Linked DNA regions of Homo sapiens: region 2 is linked to region 1. Evidence: fine-mapped expression QTL. Tissue or cell type: blood mononuclear cells. Region 1 holds a variant in brackets; the other region holds the start of a gene. All regions are shown on one strand. Distances are between the middles of the regions.

The links. PIP is the estimated chance that this variant, and not a neighbour inherited with it, causes the effect.
Region 2: it holds the start of NOCT, and the variant in region 1 is fine-mapped to the expression of NOCT in blood mononuclear cells (TOPMed, PIP 0.97).

The regions. Positions count from the first base shown.
Region 1 is chr4:138,918,597-138,924,912 of GRCh38, reverse strand. The region is part of intron 2 of LOC105377448 (a long non-coding RNA gene); the gene reads left to right. Among named protein-coding and RNA genes, the nearest start is that of NOCT, 94 kb to the left of the region's middle. RefSeq lists an enhancer at 5,556-5,615. The variant A/C (reference allele first, on the strand shown) is at 2,878.
Region 2 is chr4:139,012,765-139,019,080 of GRCh38, reverse strand. It overlaps NOCT (nocturnin), which reads right to left and starts at 3,300. Exons shown (of 3, transcript NM_012118.4): 1 at 2,910-3,300. The coding sequence starts at 3,099. RefSeq lists a silencer at 2,861-3,160 and enhancers at 3,301-3,650, 3,683-4,604, 3,741-4,940.

The DNA.
Region 1 (6,316 bases):
ACATAATAACATCTTCTTGCACTTAGGATCATTGCTCAGGAAATTTTAAAGCACTTACCAGTGTAAGCGCCCTCCATTTCTCTGATAAAAATAATGAAAAGTGCTTGGGTTTATGATGATGGGCCTCTGTAAATTCTGATGATGGTGGACACATACATTTATAGAAAGAAAGTTTCTCTGTATAAGGTAACATTTCCAGGTCCTTCCTGCTGGGAGACTTGCTTATTCTCCCCCTTCTACTTCCTCTTCTACTCCTCTTCCTCCCCCACCTCCTTCTTTTTTCTTTTTTTTTTTTTTTTTGAGACAGGGTCTCACTCTGTTGCCCAGGCTGGAGTGGAGTGGTGTGATCGTGGCTCACTGCAACCTCGACCTCTCTGGGCTCAGGCGATCCTCCCATCTCAACCCACCTGCATAGCTGGGACTACTGGCACATGCCACCACACTCTGCCAATTTTTGTATTTTTTGTAGAGAAAGGGTTTTGCTGTGTTGTCCAGGCTGGTCTTGAACTCCTGGGCTCAAGTGACCTGTCTACCTTGGCCTCCAAAAGTGCTAGAATCTCCTTTTTTTCTTTTTATTTTCTTTCTTTTTCCCTTTAGTTTTGAGAGAGAGTCTCACTCTGTCGCCCAGGCTGGAGTGCAGTGGTGTAATCTCGGCTCACTGCAACCTCCATCTCCCTGGTTCAAGCAATTCTTGTGCTCCAGCCTCTCAAGCTCACACCATGCCTCGCTAATTTTTGTATTTTTAGTAGAGACAGGGTTTTGCCATTTTGGCCAGGCTAGTCTTGAACTTCTGGCCTCAAGTGATCCTCCTGCCTCCAAAAGTGCTGAGATTACAGGCATGAGCCACCATGCCCGCCTCCTTTTTTCTTACATTGCTTTGAAGAAATAAAAATCTTTTTCAAATTGATTACTTTGATTATTCAATTTGCTTCGATGTGACCTCTGATCATAGGTTGTATAACAGTGGTGTAGTCTTTGCAGTGTTTGGAAGGTCTCAATGACAACCCCCGTTCCTTGGGTTTAGACAATAGTCAGCATTCAGATTTATTCACTCCTTTTTTTTTTTTTTTTTTTGAGACAGAGTCCTGCTCTGTCACCCAGACTGGAGTGCAGTGATGCAATCTTGGCTCACTGCAACCTATGACTCCTGGGTTCAGACGATTCTCTTGCCTCAGCCTCCCGAGTAGCTGGGATTACAGGCGCCCACCACCACTCCCAGCTAATTTTTTTGTATTTTTAGTAGAGACGGCGTTTCACTATATTGGCCAGGTTGGTCTCAAACCCCTGACCTTGTGATTTGCCCACCTCGGCCTCCCAAAGTGCTGGGATTACAGGTGTGAGCCATTGTGCCTGAGCTTATTCACTCCTTTCAAAATGGTCAATTAGTTTCCAGATACAAATGAAAATGAGAGCTGATCTGGCATGGGGTGGGAGGAAGCTTTTAGGCTCAACTGGGTCTTCCAGGAAATCTCCTCTCCTCATTTCTTTCCTCCTCACCCCTTAAACTGGGTAGAGACTCCTCTTAGCTGCTTCCATAATACCCCTACACATATCTCAATCATTGCACTCACACCTTTTTTTTTCCTTTTGGCTGTATTACCTGGTGTTACAAGGGCACTTATTAATCTTTGTTAACCAAAGTTTAATGGCCAGACTAAAATATTTCAATTGCAGTGATTTTCTAAGATTATAATTCAGAGTCGTAAGAATTTCCAAATTAGTAATAAAGCTTCTTTATATACTATTAGTACATTTCTTATTCTATTAGCAGAAACATAGAAAGTAATATCAGTGAGGACATCCACTGTGGGAAGCAATTCGATCAAAAAATCAGGGAGTGCAAACCCGAGTGTCTGCTTTGGTCACTTAGAGAGTGTACACTTGCTCATTGCAGATATTGGAAAGTAAATGGGGGACAATTTGAGGGAATCACTGGGTCCAGAGAATAATTTCTGATTTCTCTTGTCTGTCCCCTTTTACGTTAGGCTCTGTTATTTTTTAAATGTCTGGATTCTGGATGATAAGGTTAGAATTGGTGCTGATTTTATCACCGGGATGATGTATCCTTTAGATTTTCCTTTCTATTTTAGGGTTTTATGATTAAGATGAATTTCAAAACTTAAGCAAATATTAAATTCAGAATAATCAGTCTGGGCTCCTATGAAGTCCTATGTGTGTTCTCTCCCTGTGGTACGGATGGCCTGTCTCTCCAGGCACCTTCCTGGCCTCTGCTTGGCATTCTTCCCATGGGCATCTCCATGGGCATGTCCTTGCACTGCACATTTCAATTTCTGGGAGGATGCCCATCTCTGGGTGCTCTGATGTGCACCTGGTTTTCATGCCTTTCCTAAATGCTCCCCCAGCCCCATCAGTCTCATGGCGGATACTGCCTGAAAGGGCCTATCTGGCTCAACCCTCATGTTGTTATTACTTTCTTTCCAAAAAGACCTATTGAGCATCTACTATATGCCAGATTTTGGACCAGGAAATGGGGACACAACAGAGAAAAACATAGACTCAAGCTTCTGGACTTTCAAGATTCTCAAATTTTTATAGCTTTTGCTGAAGAGAAACTAAGATCTATTCAGCTTTAAAAAAAATGTTTTTAAATTTTTTTATTTTTCGAGATGGGGTCTCGCTCTGTCACCCAGGCTGGAGCACAGTGGCACGATCTTGGCTCACTGCAGCCTCTGCCTCCGGGTTCAAGTAATTCTCCTGCCTCAGCCTCCTGAGTAGCTGGGATTACAGGGGTGCACCACCACACCCGGCTAATTTTTGCATTTTTAGTAGAGACAGGGTTTCACCATGTTGGCCAGGCTTCCATTCAGCTTTAAGATGACATCTTTTTTTCTAGCATGATTTCCTTTGTGAATCCAC[A/C]GGGGAAAAATAGGAAATTAAAATGCACAACTGTAAAAAAAAATCATAAACTTTTCTTTCTTTCTATTTTTTTTTTTTTTTTTTTTTTGAGACAGAGTCTCACTCTGTTGCCCAGGCTGGAGTGCAGTGGCACGATCTCGGCTCACAGCAACCTATGCCTCTCAGATTCAAGCAATCCTCCTGCCTCAGCCCCCCTAGTAGCTGGGATTACAGGCACGCGCCACGATGCCCAGCTAATTTTTGTATTTTTACTATAGACAGGGTTTTGCCATGTTGGCCAGGCTGGTCTCGAACTCCTGACCTCAGGTGATCCACCCACCTCAGCCTCCCAAAGCACTGAGATTACAGGTGTGAGCCACCATGCCTGACCAAATCATGAACATTTTGAGCCTCTTTTATCACCTGTAAAATTATGGCAACATTCAAAATACCTAGACTTATCAATTTAAACTTTTAATGTACCATTATTCTAAATGAAATGATTAATTACATGACTTTGTATGAAAAGAAAAATAATTGTGGTTCTTTCCTACCCCGAACACCTTCCACTAAAGTAAACTTCATGTGTGCCACACAGCCACGTATAACACCAGCTATTTTAGTGCCAATAACAAATAATTAGTTTGATTATATAGATTGTTAATGTGTTATATATATGTCCTCTTCCTAGAGGGTGAGGACTCTTTTTCATATTTGAGTAGCTAGAACATAGAAGAGTTCAATAAATATTTGTTGAATAAAGGCAGATGGAATTTAGGAAGCATAAAAATGGGGTGACCCTTTCCTTTTTTTTTTTTTTTTTTTGAGACAAGGACTCACTCTGTTACCCAGGCTGGAGTGTAGTGGCTCAATCTTGGCTCACTGCAGCCTCAACTTCCCCGGGTTCAACCCATCCTCCTGCCTCAGTTCCCCAAGTAGCTGGGACTATAGGTGTGAGCCACCACACCTGGCTAATTTTTGTATTTTTTTTTTTTTTATAGAGATGGGGTTTCACCATGTTTCCCAGGCTGTTCTTGAACTCCTGGGCTCAAGCAATCCACTCACCTTGGCCTTCCAAAGTGCTGGGATTACAAGCATGAACCACCACACCTGGCCTGACCCTGTTTTGAAGTATGGTGCTTAGGATGGAAAGAAGGGAATGAAAATAGAAAGCTAAGGGTCCCATACATGTATTGCATGTTTACTCTACCTCTAACTGTGCTAAGTACTTTGTGTACATGACACAGAAGAACTCATATTTAATTTCATGAAGGAAGAAGCATCAGTTTAATTTTACAAACATGGAAACCAAAGCTTAGTGAGGTTGTGCCATGTTCAGTCACATGCCTGGCAAAACCATAGCTGTCACTCAGGTCAGAAAATCAGATTCACTTCAAATTTAGTGCCAGTTGTCATCAATATGTACTGTATCTTACAGACACGCTTTCTCAATGCTTGAGTTTGGGCAAACCTTGCTGGCAGGGTTCCTCCCCACCCCCTAGCCTGTGTCTCGCCTGTGTCTTCTGGATGCTAAGCCTGTGAATATTAATATTGTGACAGAGAATATCAAAGTGTGAGTTTTCCTTGAAAGTCATATATAGTTTGGGGAAAGGAATAATTTGATGACATTTCTGATTTTATTTACTGTTAGGGTTTTTCTTTTTTATTTTGGCAACATCTGGCAATAGGTCTCTGCATTTAAACACAAATCCCTAATGAGTTATTTGGAAATGAAATGATTGTCTTATTTTAGGAGATAGAGAGAGAGAGAGGGAATGGTGAAAGCTTTCTTGTGCTTATGTCTAGTATCAGTATCAATCAAATATTTTTAAAAATTTTGGGTTTTAGAATAAAATCTCACTTTCAATTTTGGGAATCTCTGTTTCTTCCTTTGCCTTGGGCCTTATTGATTTATTTTTGGGTTACTGCACATTTTCTTGCAATTCTGGATGGTGGAAATGTTTGCCCTTTAAAAGCAGGGGGCACTCTGGGTACAGACTGATGCTTCCTTCAAATCTGGAGTGAGAGAATTTTCTTCCTGGCAAGGGCCCCCTCCCACCTGCTCTGCTGTGGACATTGAATCCCCTCAGGGTGAAGGGTGGAGAATTAGCACGAATACTTAAAGCGGGTCTTGCTTACTCCGAAAGGAGTGAGGGACGGTTCTTCCCGTGCCTCTTTCAGTTTGGAAGGACATCCTAGGATGGATGTCATCAGTTCCTTGATGTAAGGAAGAGAGACTAATAAGAGGCATAAAAACTTCTTTTCCCTTATTTCACTTGACTCTTTGCGTCTGTCACAGATCCTGCTGGACTGACAGAACATTACACAAATAACCCTCCTTCTTAAGTAGCGACGGGGCGGCGGTAGGCATTTTTTCATTTAGAGTCTATCAACTGAGAATTGATAAAGTCATCTCAGAACAACTGTAGTTTGACCCTGACCTGACAAAAGAGATCGAAAATGTCTCGTGTGGAGAGAAGCAAGGGGGCTGGGAACATCATTGCCTCAGAAAGAAGCTTCAAGTCGGCTAAGGGCTGACACCCAAGCACCCCGCGAATGTGTTTAATAACTGGAAAGCAGATAGTGAAAGAGCAGTCAATAAACAATTGTGGTTTAATAAATTATTCATTTTAACAATACGTCCAGTGTTTGCCCAGAGATGGGAGAACGGCTGTAGGTTTTTTCCCCATCTCCTCGTCTGGTCTGAACCTGCCTGGATGCTGAGTTGTTCGCCATTCTGGACGGCAGAGGGCACTCGTGTCACACCTGAAAAGGGGATTGGCTGAGCCTTCCCAGCGCCTATCCGTGCTTATGAAGGAAAGATAGCAGAGATAGGAAGACGTCGAGAAGACGGAGAGAGGAAGATAGAAAACGAGTGGATAGCCCCGGAAATGAAAAATATATATTTCTCACAGGCAGATCAAATTCAACCCTGCACTGAAGCAAGGCATAAAGAAATAAATAGAAAACAGTCGCTCTATATTTCTTGGTTAAAATAATTTATTTATTTGAAGATCGTAGGATGACAGATTTGGAACAGTCGGGACAAAGGCAAGGAGATATTCAAAAAAATTTAACAGATTTATTTTCATCTTGAAAACCGAACTCTGATTTTCAGGAAATACTCTTAGGTATCGAGCGGTTCTCTTGGGCTTCACTGCCAGGGATAAATCAAAAATGCCTTACAGCTACTGAGGGCCCCTGGGCCGCTTGGAACAAAATCCCACCACACTTTAAAGCATGCCCTTCATGGAGATGAATCCCTAACATCAGTCAAACTCTGTCTTCACTTCTGTTCTCATGGCTCTGTGCTACGGCCTGATTTTATTTATGATACTGTGTCACATGAGGCGAGGCTCCTATTGTGGGTTGAGAAGGGCCATTGTACTCCCTGGGATATTTACTGTATACCTAGGGCGCTGAGGTATAATCTATCCTCTGCAGTAATGCAGATTCTAAA
Region 2 (6,316 bases), 94 kb before region 1:
ACCTTGTCTCAAAAAAAATAAAAATAAAAATTAAAATTAAAAAGCACTTAGTGCTGGGTCTGAGGCTCTTTGGAAAACAATGTCCATTTTTGCAAAGTGCCTCTTCTCTCACCCTTCCTCATCTGTGTGTGTCTCATGCCTTTCTGCATTTACTCCTGCTTTTTCCAAACAAAACGCTTTATAGTAATCTCTTCCAATCCTAACCATGCTTCAAGAGCCAGCTGAAATGCCACCCATTTCTAGAAGCCCAAAAGGGACTTCCTGCTTTCCTGCACCCTTGTGCCATTTCCAAGTCAAGAGAATAAAAGGTGTTTCATTTCATTAAACAGCCATTTCATTGTGCAAATCTCATCTCTTACTGGGCAGTAAACTCCTTAGGGACTGACTAAAGCTCATGTTTTTAACTCCCATAATAAAGCACCTACATTGTGTGAGACATTCTGTAAAGATCTGGAATGAGTGAACAAGCAATGAATGAATCAATGCAGGCATGTTTCTTCCAACAAGCTGCTGAAGCTAAAAATGCATGAACAGGAAAATTGTCTAGACTTTATAGTAACTGCCTACAAAAGTTTAAGTACCATAAAGTCCTTCAATTTCCTTATCTGTAAAACTAGGGGGTTTCAGGGGATTTCTTAAAAGAAGTTCATTAAACACTTTCTTGGGTCAAAAGCCCAACATTCCAATCTGACCTGATATTATTACTCAGATAACAGTAATTACTCAGATAACACAGCCATCTATGTTTTACACAAGCTAACAGTATTCCCATGAGGAGGTACCTACTAACCCTGCCTCTGAGACTTTGAGGGAATTTAAGATATAAGCTGGTACAGAAGACATCACCTGGTTTTCTTTTACTTTTCCTACCTCAAACCTCTAACAATGTTGTTCTTAAAATTTCCAGCAAGAAAAAAGTTATCAGGCAATATACTCATTCTGGCAGTTATTTCACAATGTACCACATTCCTACGAAATTGGGGGTGGGGGTGGGGAATCTAACTGTCAAGTTCACTCTAAGGAACAATATAGTTCAGAATCTCCAGCAACCAATTCAACATCCTAATTTTAAAATGACTAAGTTGGGCATGGTGGCTTCCACCTGCAAATCTCAACTGCTCCAGAGTCTGAGGATAACTCGAGGCCAGGAGTTTGATACTAGATTGGGAAATACCTAAATATCTGCCAACAATGCGAATAGTTTAAAGTCTTGGCTTCAATCACATTCCAGATGACCATTTTTAAAATATATACATTTTTTAAAATTTTTATTAATTTTGTTTTGAGACGGAGTTTTACTCTTGTCACCCAGGCTGGAGTGCAATGGTGCGATCTCGGCTCACTGCAACACTCCGCCTCCCAGGTTCAAGTGATTCTCCTGCCTCAGCCTCCAGAGTAGCTGGGATTACAGGCGAGTGCCACCACGCCCAAGCCCATTGGCCAGGATGGTCACGAACTCCTGACCTCGGGTGATCTACCCGCCTCCGCCTCCCACAGTGCTGGATTACAGGCGTGAGCCACCGCGCCCGGCCTATTTTTTTAAATTTTATAGGCCGGGGGGGCGGTGGCTCACGCCTGTAATCCCAGCACTTTGGGAGGCCAAAGCGGGAGGTTCACCTGAGCTAGGGAGTTCGAGGCCAGCCTGACCAACATGGAGAAACCCCATCTCTACTAAAAATACAAAAATCAGCCTGGCGCGGTGGCGCATGCCTGTAATCCCAGCTTCTCGGGAGGTTGAGGCAGGAGAATCGCTTGAACCCGGGAGGCAGAGGTTGCGGTGAGCCGAGATCGCGCCATTGCACTCCAGCCTGGGAAATAAGAGCAAAACTCCGTCTCAAAAAAAAAAAAAAAAAAAGTTATGTATTGCCTAGTTTTGAAAGAAAAAATTTATCAATTTTTAAAGTATAATTAATTTGTATGTAATTTGTGGCCATGGTAATGTGTGCCCAGGCAGAAACAGAGGTAGCAAAAAAGGAAAACTCAGGGTAGTTATTATGATGTATGAAAACAGCTCTTGGTGAAACTAAGGCCTCACTTTTACAAGATCTTAGATACACAGGACAAAAAATGATGTTAACTATAAAGAGTGGAAGCCTCCAAAAAAAAAAAATCCAAAGAAACGTAAAATGGCCGAGCGCGGTGGCTCACGCCTGTGATCCCAGCACTCTGGGAGGCTGAGGCGGGTGGATCACGAGGTCAGGAGTTCAAGACCAGCCTGGCCAAAATGGTGAAACCCCCGTCTCTACTAAATATACAAAAGTTAGCTAGGCGTGGTGACTGGCGCCTGTAATCCCAGCTACTCGGGAGGCTGAGGCAGGAGAATCGCTTGAACCCGGGAGCGGGAGGTTGCGGTAAGCCGATATCGTGCCACTGGACTCCAGCCTGGGTGACACAGTGAGACTCCATCTCAAAAAAAAAAAAAAAAAAAAAAAAAAAAAACAACGTAAAACGAATCAATGTGTTATTATCACGACTTAAAAAAAAAACTTAATATCTAGACCATGAAAGCTATATAAGCAAATAAGCATCATTTAGATTTTTTTTTCCATAAAAATTTCCGTTAAGTCGTGCAATAAAAAATGTAACCAACATAGTAACTCGCGGCCTCGGAAGGGGGAAATTTAACGGTCAAGAACAAGAAATTCTGAAAGCATGGCCTCTAAGGGTCAAGCGGGAACCTGAATACAGTCTCCCAGTTCTTACTAGCTTTGATGCAAGCCCCAGGCAAGTCGGGGAACAGGGAAAGAGGAAAAAGGGAACGCAGAAGGTTGCTCCGGTAAAGGACCCACTTTCAGGCCAGACTCCACGACCGGCAGCCCCGGGCTTCTCATTCATTCCGCGCGGTCTCCAGGTGGCGGCCGCGCGTTGGCGGCCGTGGCGTTCTCCGCCCGGAACTGGGGTGCACTCACCTGTTCGGGAACACGACCTCGCGGCGCCCGAGGCCGCCGAGGCCGCCGCCAGCAGCCGGGGGGATGCGGGCCTGGGAACAGCAGCCGGCGGGGACAACGGGCGGCGCAGCCCTGGGGCGGGCAGGCGGCGCAGGCCGGGCGCGTCCCTCTGCAGCAGGGCCGAGCAGAGCCGCCGCGGACTATGAAACATGCCGGGCGCCGCCGCCACCACGGCCCCTCGCGCGCCCGAGGAGCGGAGCCCGGCTGGGGCCGAGGGCACCGAGTCGAGCCGACTGTCCGGGCAGTGTGGGCGGATGCTCCCAGGCTCCTTCTCGCGCGGCGCAGGTTCTGGGGAAATCCCGGGCAGCAGAGCCGGAGAGGGAGGTGCAACACCGCTGCGTCGGCACCGTCTGCTGTGAGACCTGGCGAGACCTGCAGGGCGCCCGGCGAGCGCTGCGCGCTGACAAAGCGGGCGCTACCAAGCGGGAGCTGGAGGGGAATCCGCGGGACCCGGCCACTGCGCGGCCACGCCAGGCTCCCTCGACCCGGCGTAATCCTGTTTTAAAAGGAAGCGGGGCTTAGGCTGATTTATAGATAGAATCCGCAGGCGGTCTAAAATAAGAGGTATCCGTTGGAGCTGTTCTGAAGAAAAAAGCGTCCCCTTCCGCTGGCCAGCATGGAAGCGCCCACAGGCTGGGAATCCCGAGACAGTTCCAGGGCTGTGGCCCAGGGGACACGTGTCTGTCAGAGTGGCAGACGGCCTACGTGTGTGCCTGCGCGGGTCTGTGTGGATACAGCAAAAGGCGTCCGCCTCCGACCCCCTCGGCAGTGTGTGATGCGTTAAACGATATTAAGCACAATAAAGCACCGCCTGTGGGCGAGGCGACGATGATTAAAACAGCGTTCTTTTCCTCAAAAGTGTTATACTTAGGCAAAGGGAGCAGAAGGTGGCAAGGGAAGTCAGACCAGAAAGCTCTACAAGGTAGAATGAGATTATTGCCACAAGATGCCAAAGATTGGCTATAGAGATGACAACAGGCCCGGGCTCTCTAGAAGGTTCATTAGAAGGATTGGCATTTGAGTTGGCCTATGACGTGGAGGTCTAGAATTTACCCACGTGAAACTTTGGAGGGGGTGGTGGTGAGTTATAAATGAAAAAAGTAAATAAGGGTGTATTTGGGGAAACAACTCTTAGTCATGTAAGATGGAAGCTAAGGAGTAAGAGGACAGATGCGTGGATAGGTTGTAGTGTGGAAGGAAGGGGATTATAGTAGGCTTAATTCGGTGGATAGCTGCGAGCCGTTGACGTTTTGTAAGCTGAGCAAAGACATGGTCAGGGCTGTGCTTTAATTGGAAATCACATGTCTCTGGTTCATGAAAAGGCAGAAAGGAAATCAGCTGAGATAACAGATACTGTAGACCCGCACCAGGTTACTGTTACTGGAAAAGAAAGGATGGAAGAAACATCTCAGACAGGCTGGGCAGGAAATGATGACTAATCAGGAATAGAAATGGGATGAGGGGGAGGGAAAACCCAAGACTGGATTTTTCTCTGAATGATTCATGAGTTAGAAATGTATTCTATTGGTTTTCCCATGATTTTGCTGATTCCCCTGTGTTGTGGAATTGCAAGCTTTTCATCACAAGAATATTCTAAATATTTTTCAGACCTAGGTTACATATCTAACACCTGTGGATAGAGGGTGTGGACAGATCAGCTGGCACAAGTTGATTACAACTTCTGGCAGACAAGCTCCTTGGAAGTCATTAAAGCCTCAGTTTCAGTTTCCTTATCTATAAAACATAGAATCATACCTTAGTCATTAGGTGAAATAAAAAATGATAATAAGCTACTCTGGGCACACTGTCTATCGAGTAGTCCTGCTCCACAAGGAGCAGTACTTGTAAAAAGAATTTTTTTAAAAAGGTGATAATAAAATTAGCCTATGAAAAGTGTTTTGCAAATATAGCAAAATGTTGATTTTGAATCTAGGTAGTGGGTATATATGGGTATAGGGACCATGGGAAAAATGTTCCCTTTGCCCTCTGAAGTTTGCTGAAAAATCAACTCACAAAAGGCAGATTAATGGGAGAAAAGGCATATGCATTTATTAACATGTACATGGGGAGAATCACAGAGTGATTACACACCCCCAACGGGGTTCAGAAGCTTGTCTACCATCCTGGCCAACAGACTTGGGGAGAGGGGAGCAGAGGCATTCTGTTGAGGAGATGACTAGGGAAAGTGAATGGATCAGGGCACAGGGATGAACTTGCACATTATCTTGTGAAAGGGTCTGTTCAGGTGGTTACATTTTTGGTCTTACAAGGAGGGGAAGAAAAAACAATTGTTCCTTTTGGTGGGTTCGGATTGTAGCCAGATAAAGGAACTTCAACTTCATCCTGTGCTTTGGGAGAGATGGTGCTGGGCAGTGAGGTCAGAGAGACCTTGAGGCTTCCATTCAGCCGGTCAAAGCCCCATATTTTGGGCTATCAGTTTCTGAGTCCCGACACAAGTGTTCACTTACAATTATTTTTCCCCCATATATTTGGAGATTTTCATAATAAAATGTTGGGGAAAAGTGCTTTGAAAAATGAAAAAATAACTGTTCAAATATAAACTGTCACTATTTAAAGAGATTCAAAGAGCATGCTATCCTGAAAGTGCATCATATTATTTATTTTTTTTTTATTTATTTATTTGAGATGGAGTCTGTCGCTCTGTTGCCCAGGCTGGAGTACAGTGGCGTCATCTTGGCTCCCTGCAACCTCCGCCTCCCGGGTTCCAGCCATTCTCCTGCCTCAGCCTCTGGAGTAGCTCTGACTACAGGCGCACACCACCACGCCTGGCTAATTTTTGTATTTTTTAGTAGAGACAAGGTTTCATCATATTGTCCAGGCTGGTCTCAAACTCCTGACCTCAGGTGATCCCCTCGCCTCAGTCTCCCAAAGTGCTGGGATTACAGGCATGAGCCACCACGCTCGGCCTGAATCATATTTTTTATAATATATTAAACACTAAGCAATCAGAAAGATAGAAATTAAAACTTATTCCCTTGAAAATTTATTCAGTAAACATTTGTTGAATACACATTATGTGCCAGGCTCTATATTAGAGCATACAAAAATAAATTGAACAAAATCTATTGACAGTTTAGGGGGTAAGACATTGTATAAACAAAAATACTTGTAATTATCTGCTAATAAGTACAGAATCACTTATGGACAAAGTATTGTGGGACCAGAGAAGAGGAAATGTTACTGGAAAGGGGTCCCAATCCAGACCCCAAAAGAGGGTTCTTGAATATTACACAAGAAAGAATTCAGGACGAGCTCATAAAGTGAAACCAAATTTATTAGAGAAGTAAAGAAATAAAAGAATGGTTACTCCATAGGCAGAGCAGCACTGAGGGCTGCTTATGGCTTTT